Homo sapiens: one gene and its partner. The gene in region 2 interacts genetically with the main gene of each other region. Each region holds a gene or a part of one and is shown on either strand. Other genes may lie near its edges.

Region 1 (3,500 bases), on a different chromosome or scaffold from region 2:
TTCATCAAAGTATAAGAGTTTTGTTACTTCTACTGAGAAAGTTCTTTGCCAACTAATGCCCTTACAAAGAAAGAAAGGAAATACAAGGTGCTTTACTATTAAGGGAAGTGTTTGTTTAATATTAACATGACATACTTGAGTAGAGCAATAAAATTCCTAGCTGCATTTGTAATTTTGGCCCATAATAAGGCGAGGCTTACCCTTGCTGGAAAAAGGCAAAACTGACACAAATGGGCATGTGGTGGATACTTAATGGTACAGGATCACGCTCTTCAGGTGTATACTGTTTCAAAAGAAAATGTTTAATAATTATAGTCACTAAGTTATGAACATCCAAAAAAATCATCTTGCACATCAAATACTAAAAAATGAAGTTCCTTTATTCTTTTGAGTACCTAAATAACTTCTTTTAATTAATTACCAGTTTGATTTTGCCACTCACGTTCCTCAAACTGTACAACTTTTTCAAAAAGCTTTTTCAAAAATTTACTGACACATAATTTACATCCCATAAAATCCACTTTTTTTTTTGGAGATGAAGTTTCACTCTTGTTGCCCAGGCTGGAGTGCAATGGCAAGATGTCAGCTCCCGGCAACCTCCGCCTCCTGGGCTCATGCGATTCTCCTATGTCAGCCTCCCAAGTAGGTGGGATTACAGGCATGTGCCACCACGCCCGGCTAATTTTGTATTTTTAGTAGACGGGGTTTCTCCATGTTGGTCAGGCTGGTCTCGAACTCCCAACCTGAGGTGATCCACCTGCCTTGGCCTCCCAAAGTGCTGGAATTACAGGTGTGAGCCACCACGCCCAGCCAAAATCCACTCATTTTAAGTATATGATTCAATTTTTAGTAAATGTATAGTTATGGATACATTTACGGACCCATCACCACAATCTAGTTTTTTAACATTTCCATTACTCCCCAAAATTCCTTTGAATCTGTCTGTAGTCCGTAGGAGTCTGGTGTACTCCCACCCTAGCCCCAAGGAATCACTGATCTATCTTATTTCTGTCTCTATAAATCTGACTTTCTGAGCATTCTATATAAATGGAAAAAAAAAAAGTTGTAATGTTTTGTGCCTGGCTTCTTTCAACTTAGCATGTTTCATGCACCTTGCAGCATTTATCAGTAGTTCAGTTCTTTTCATTACTGAACAGCATTCCATTATTTGTATATATGACATTTTATCTATTCACCAGCTGGACATTTGGATTGTTTCCAGTTTCTGGCTAACAAATGATGCTATGAACACTTGCATTGAAGTCTCTGAACGTAGTAAGCTCTTATTCCTCCCGTAGATTCTTAGGCATGGAATTGCTAGAATTTTTTTTTTTTTTTCTAATTTTAAGCCATTGCAGTTTGTTTTAACATTATAAGGTCGGCTGGGGGCAGTGGCTCACGTCTGTAATCCCAGCACTTTGGAAGGCCGATGTGGACGAGGTTGGGAGTTCAAGACCAGCCTGACCAACATGGAGAAACCCTGTCTCTACTAAAAATACAAAATTAGCCAGGCGTGGTTGCACATGCCTGCAATCCCAGCTACTTGGGAGGCTGAGGCAGGAGAATCGCTTGAATCCGGGAGGCGGAGGCTGCAGTGAGCCGAGATCACGCCATTGTACTCTAGCCTAGGCAACAACAGTGAAACTTTGTCTCAAAAGAAAAAAAAAAAATTACAAGGTCAAACCTGCTGAAAGATGTACATATAAGAGAGTGTTTTCAGCTGGGCATGGTGGCTCATGCCTGTAATCCCAACAGTTTGGGAGGCCAAGGTGGGAGGATCACTTGAGCCCAGGAGTTCGAGACCAGCCTGGGCAATTTGGTGAAACCATATCTCTACAAAAAATACAAAAATTAGTCAAGTGGGTGGCACATACCTGTAGTCCCCACTACTCAGGAGACTGAGGTGGGAGGATTGCTTAAGTCCAGGAGGCAGAGGTTACAGTGAGCCGAGATCACGCCACTGCACCCCAGCCTGGACAACGGAGTGAGATCCTGTCTCAAAAAAAAAAAAAAGAAAAAAAAAAAAGAATATTTTCTTCTACTGTTATTTTTCTGAATATAGAATGCTGTCTACACTTAAAACTTAAGCTACCAAACTTTTCCAACATGGCTGTACCATTTTACATTCCCACTAGCAATAACACCACAGTATTCTTTAATTGATTTTTCAAGTGTAGTAATCGCTTTCTACTTTTTTTCACTTCCTTATATAAACTCCCTCCTCTAAAAGAATATTACCTCTACTGTTAATAAACCTTTGTCCCTATTTCTCACTTTTTAATGGTTCTGCTTCAGTCTACTGCCCAAAATCAAAATTATGAATCATTGCTTAGAAAATCTGGGCATCTGATGTGTCCTTTTGCAACTTCAGGATTCAAACTACAACTACAGTGCACTTTCACTATTCTAGCATGTAATTTATATAAATCAAAACTGACATACTCAGAACAAAAGATAAAGACAACGTAGGTCAATGGTTTTCAAAATGTGCTCCCTGGACCAGCAACATCAGTATTACCTAAGAACTCAAAGTTAGAAGTACAAAATCTTAAGTCCTAGCCCTGTTTTACTTTGGGAGTAGTCTGGCTATACGTTTTAACAAGCCCTCCAGGTATTTCTGATGGACTTTCGTCATCTCTTTGCCTAATGAACAAAAGTCCTGGAGACAAATATGAACCTGCTGATTCCTCAGTGCTTTTCAGCTATTGCATGCCTCTTGCAGGGTAAGCATCTCACTGTGCTGAGATTCATGTATTTTTCACACATATGGCCCCTAAACATAAGTCAACCACTTCATCTAATGTTCAATCCAAAATAGTCATCTAATTCTATTCTGGAAAACCAGGCTAGGGTATGTTCTTACTGACAAATGTTTCAACAGAGGAACGGTTAAGAGATTTCCAGGGCAATTTTGACCATATGCAGTTTCAGTCTTACAAACAAATTTTTAGAAACGACCCAATTGCCATCTACAACATAACTTCACTAAAAACAAGTTGCCTGCACATTTAAGACCCTCCTCATTCATTCATATCAAGGATCCTGGTTCACATAGGAGCTTACCAGTGTTACTTCATCTCCTTGGACAGAGACATCAGGTCTTCGGAAATGACATAAGGCCACGATTGCAGCAATGCTGGCAGCATCAATAATATTTCCATCATGATTTAATAAATGTAGGTCTACACGTATTTGCCAAACCTGATAGTGAATTTAAAATAAAAATAAATCCTAACTGATTACAACCAGTGGCTATTTATCAGGAAAAGTAACATTGTGTACAAATTATTTTTTCTTGCTGTTAAAACACGCAGTTACTCCTTGTACTTTGTCAACAAAAAATATATTTTAGAAAATTTAAGCCAAACATCTGAAATACTATGTGGGTCGTTTAACAACAGAACACATACTTTAAATAAACAGAACCACTCTAACATTTAATACTACGATTTTCCTAACCTCAAATCTAATTACATTTTTATCATGTCTGTTAAAAACCA
Region 2 (4,582 bases):
TTCCGGTGAGTGGGGGAAGAAATAATAAACTTTCAGATTTTCCCTGAACTTCCCCCACCCATCTTTAAGCCATATGGAAGAAACACTAGTCGTCAGTAATAATTTTAAATGCATCTCTTGGTGGTGGTGGTGGTGAGTGGAGGAGGTGGGAGAAGTGGAAGGCTGGCCCTGTTTAATGGAGGGAATCTGCACCTCAGCCTTACCCTCCTAAACTTTAGAGTGGATAATGCATCCCATGTAACATCCATGCACCACAGGGTCTCTCCTCCAACTCTTTCACATAAACCTTTTTGTGATAATTATCCTCTGACCTTTTTTTTTTTAAATGTGTAATCTCTTCTTTTTAGCAAGAGGAGAAGGAATAAAAGATGAGAAATCAGTCTTAACTAGTTTTTCTAAGGCTTAAAAGAGTGATAATAGTTTAAAACCTTTTCCTAGGGGGAGTGTATTCAGTGTTTCAGAATCCAGTAATTAGGGCCATTTTCTAACACCCGTCCCTGCCCCCCATCAATTTCTGCGGGCAGTGGCACCTCTCCTTTCCCATTGCAGCAGACATACTTTGGAATGCTCGCCTATCCAAACCCTACTCTTTGAATACCACATCTTCATAATCCCTGCCTTTTTCTTCCCTCTTCACCCCACTGCCCAGCCCCTCTCCTTCTCAATCTGAAGCTTAATTAAAGAAAGTCAAAGCGAGACCAGCATATATTAAAAACAAACACTTCTAACATAACACCTTAATTATCACACATGCCTCCTCCCACTCCGCCAAAAAAGAAAAGGAAAACTAACCTAGAATCTTTCAATAAACTCTGGCAATTGGCTTAGTTAACTGTGGCTCCTAGAGAAGTGGTTCTTAACTGGGGATGATTTTCCCCACCAGGGAACCTGTGAAAATGTCTGGAAACATTTTTGGTTGTCACAGCTGGGTAGGAGGGTGGGGTGTGTGTGTGCTACTGATATTTAGTTGGTAGAGAACAGAGGACAGGGATGTGGTTCGTCATTCTCTTAGGAAAGCCACCACCACAAAGAATTATCTGGCCCCAAATGTTAACACTGCCAAGGGCAAGAAACACTGGCTTCAAGTAATATTTACCAAACTAAAGATTTATATCTCATGTGTCCATTTGGTTCATCAAGTACTTGATAGGATGGCTTTTAACATATGAGCCAGAGTTCTAATGAATATTTGTTAAATAAAGGTCTGCTTCTCTATCCTGGAGCAGGAAAATTCAAATGAATAGCTCAGTTATAAGGCAAATATTCATTTTTCAAACAAACTGTCGAAAGGATTCATTTAAAAATCTACTTACAAGCTTGGATTACAACAGTCCATTAAAAAGTCAAATGACATAATTCTAAAGTAACATTTTTCCGTTAGAAAAAATACATGTATAGGTGCCAGAAAATAACTTTTCATAATAGCATGATATGAATAAAATCTTGACGTTCCTGTAAAAGACACAACTTGAAATTTTAATATTTATGGTGGCTCTGTCAAGGGCTGTATACTGCTATATGAAATTATCTACTCACCTCTACCATAAAACTAGACTGCAATGCCTCCAATTTCTTTAAATAGCTATGGCGATATTTCAAGACTTGTTATTTTCTATATAATGAGTAGAAATGGTACCTGGTGGAGAAACACCTAAGCCCAATTATTAGCAGAAAAAAATTCAATTGGAAAAATTTTTAATTTGAAGCAATTATATTTAATACCTCAACCTCAGGATTAAATCCTCTGAATGACATTCTTCCATAGAGAAGATCTTCACATAGTAAGAAACTCTGCTCTTCTATTATGAAACTCCTAAATGGGAAAATAAAAATAGCATTTCTCCATATATAAAGCACAGCAAACAAAAGCCAACACTTTGAATAAAAAAAATAATCAACCTATGGTTCTCAGTAGAATGAAGTAAAAATACAGTAAGATTTCTAACTTAGGGTTAAAAATAAAATCTGATTAATTTGGTCAGCAAAGGCATTAGGAGACAAGAGCAGCAAGCTAGAGGCACAGCCTCTCTTAAACACCACATTTAATTTGCATAAATATCTACATAATATAAAGATCTAAAGTATTGACAATAAACTTGAATTTGCCAAAGTTGAAGCAAAGTTTCTTTTGTGTTTACATCCCCTCACCATATTTTTTTCCAATTCTTTTTCAGAAAGGAAATAATATGTATGTAAAAATACACATACAGTATACAGTGACACACTACTCCAAATCATTTTAATAAAGTTTCTGGCATATTTTGTCTTTCGTTCTCAGGGATTTCAAAAATTCCATTCTCTAATTATCAAAGCAGCACATTTTAAGGAACGTAATTTGGAAAGCAGAATAAAGTATGAGTTTATAAACTGCCTGTAAGCTCCTTACCAAGAGGATAAAAAGGACTGTTAGTATATTTGAATATTTCCTTCCAGTCTTTTTTGTACTTGCATTTACGTTGATTCTTGAACACAGGTCTGAGCTGTGTGGTGCACTTATACACAGATTTTTTTCAAAAAATTTCAATAGTTTTTGGGGAACAGGTGGTTTTTTGGTTACATGGATAAGTTCTTTAGTGGTGACTTCTGAGATTTTGGCCCCCACCAAATTCTTATTACAAATCCAGGAGAAGTAGTGGGAAATCAGAGGCTTGAGCAGCTTTAACAGTGTTATCAGTCAGAGCTCTTAGCTATAAACACCAAAGGCTGACCCTGGATGACTTCAGCAGAGAAGGAATTTACTGTAAGAACACTGTAGGCTCTTCATTTCCAAGGGGGACTGGTTCCAGGACCCCTTGTAGATATCAAAATCTGTGACACAAAGAGCCAGCTGTACTGGGCATCTCAGAATCACCGGGAAGGCTGAAGGGGCAGAATTGGAAGACGGGCAGAAATAACGGTCGCTAGGTGGTTGCACCAGAACCAAAATCATGCTAGAGAATGACCCTAGGAAAACCACTGTTGCTGCTGACGGGGCTGAGCACGACACCACTGATGGCATTGGGGCAGGTTGCGTTCCCTGGACCAGGATGTTTCTGTCTGCAGCAGAATTTCTCTGCTGAGTCACCACCACATGACCGTAAATCCAAGGTGACATATCTATCTCCAGCCTGGCCATAAACCCTAAAGCATGGCAGGAAAGCAAACATGTGGCTTTTAAGGCTTGTTTGCCGGAGTAGGCTCTGATTCTCATAAAGATTCCCTTATGCAACAAACACTTATTAAACCAAACTGTGTGTATTAAATCAAACTGCGGAAACAGCCACCAGTAAAAGAGCCTCAGCTGGGCACAGTGGCGGATGCCTGTAGTCCCAGTTACTCAGGTGGCTGAGGCAGGAGAACTGCTCGCATCCCAGAAGTGGAAGTTGCAATGAGTCAAGATTGTGCCACTGCACTCCAGCCTGGGTGACAGTGTCAAACACTCACCTCCAAAAAAAAAGAAAAAAAAGGAGCCTCTGCTCTCCTGGAGGTTACAGTCTATAGAAAGAGGGGCCAAATAATGAATGAAACATGAAACATTTATATCACACAATGGATGAAAATAAAGCAGGTTATTCCATCCCTAGCTGTAGGGGAGTAATTGGTATGGAACTAGCTTTCCTGCACCATAATTATATAAAACAGGACAAAATATAAAATGACCATTTTCAGATAATGAACAAATCCAAGCATATGACTGTGATGCCTGAGAGAAGAAAATCAAATGAAGTAGACCCCATGAATGCGGAGCTTTCTGCCTGGAGGCAATTTCCAGATTGTGGAGCAGGGAGTGGGGGACTCACACAAAACCCTGTCTTGCTGAGCTTAAGAGACAAACTGTTTCATTGGGGCTTTAGTTGAAAAAAATAAAGGCACAAACTGAAGTTTGGGGTTATGGTGGTGGCTGGAATATCTGGGTGAGGATACCACTGAAAGGGAGCTACACTATGGAATTCAGGACCTGCATACTGGGTTCCCTTGAATCTTTGGCTGACCATGAAGCTGCACATGTGCAGGATGAGTCTTTAGACTTAGGGAAAAAGTAACTGCTGGAGAGATGATTTCTGGGAGAACACCTGCTGCATTAGCTTCCTGTGGCTGCTGTAACAAATTTAAGCTGACAAAATTGGTGGCTTAGAGCAACAGAATTTATGCTCCTACAGTTCTGTACAAAATCCAGATGTTAGTAGGCCTGGGATCCCTCCAGAAGCTTCCACGGTTACAAGGCCTTCTGTGTGTCAAATCTTCCTCACCTCTCCTCCTTATAAGGAAAAGTGATTACATTTAGGGCCCACCCAGATAATCCAGGATAATCTCTCATCTAAAGATCTGTAATTTACTCATATACCAGCAAGGTAAATTTTGCCACATAAGGTAACACTCACAGGTTTCAGAGATGAAAACCTAGATATTATCTGGGAGACCATTTTCCAGCCTACCATACCTGGGGAAAAAAAATTTACCCTGCAATTGCATGTTGAAGAAATAACAGAGCTTGCACAGAGCAAGGAAATGTTTGAGTTCTGCCTAGCCAGAGAGGAGAGAACAAGCTAAACACTCTGTGATATTTAGTAGAAAGGCCACACCTTAGGAGTAGAGACAATTT

Evidence for each region. A genetic interaction does not mean that the proteins touch.
Region 1: changes in MPHOSPH6 (region 2) and EXOSC9 together harm fitness more than expected from each alone (negative genetic interaction), as found in Homo sapiens cells (one large-scale study listed by BioGRID).

What each region holds. Positions count from the first base shown.
Region 1 is NC_000004.12:121,804,323-121,807,822, reverse strand, and holds part of EXOSC9 (exosome complex component RRP45), read right to left. Parts: intron 3,202-3,500; coding exon 3,064-3,201; intron 284-3,063; coding exon 201-283; intron 1-200. UniProt on the Homo sapiens protein: Non-catalytic component of the RNA exosome complex which has 3'->5' exoribonuclease activity and participates in a multitude of cellular RNA processing and degradation events.
Region 2 is NC_000016.10:82,149,702-82,154,283, forward strand, and holds part of MPHOSPH6 (M-phase phosphoprotein 6), read right to left. Parts: intron 1,814-4,582; coding exon 1,723-1,813; intron 1-1,722. UniProt on the Homo sapiens protein: RNA-binding protein that associates with the RNA exosome complex. Involved in the 3'-processing of the 7S pre-RNA to the mature 5.8S rRNA and play a role in recruiting the RNA exosome complex to pre-rRNA; this function may include C1D.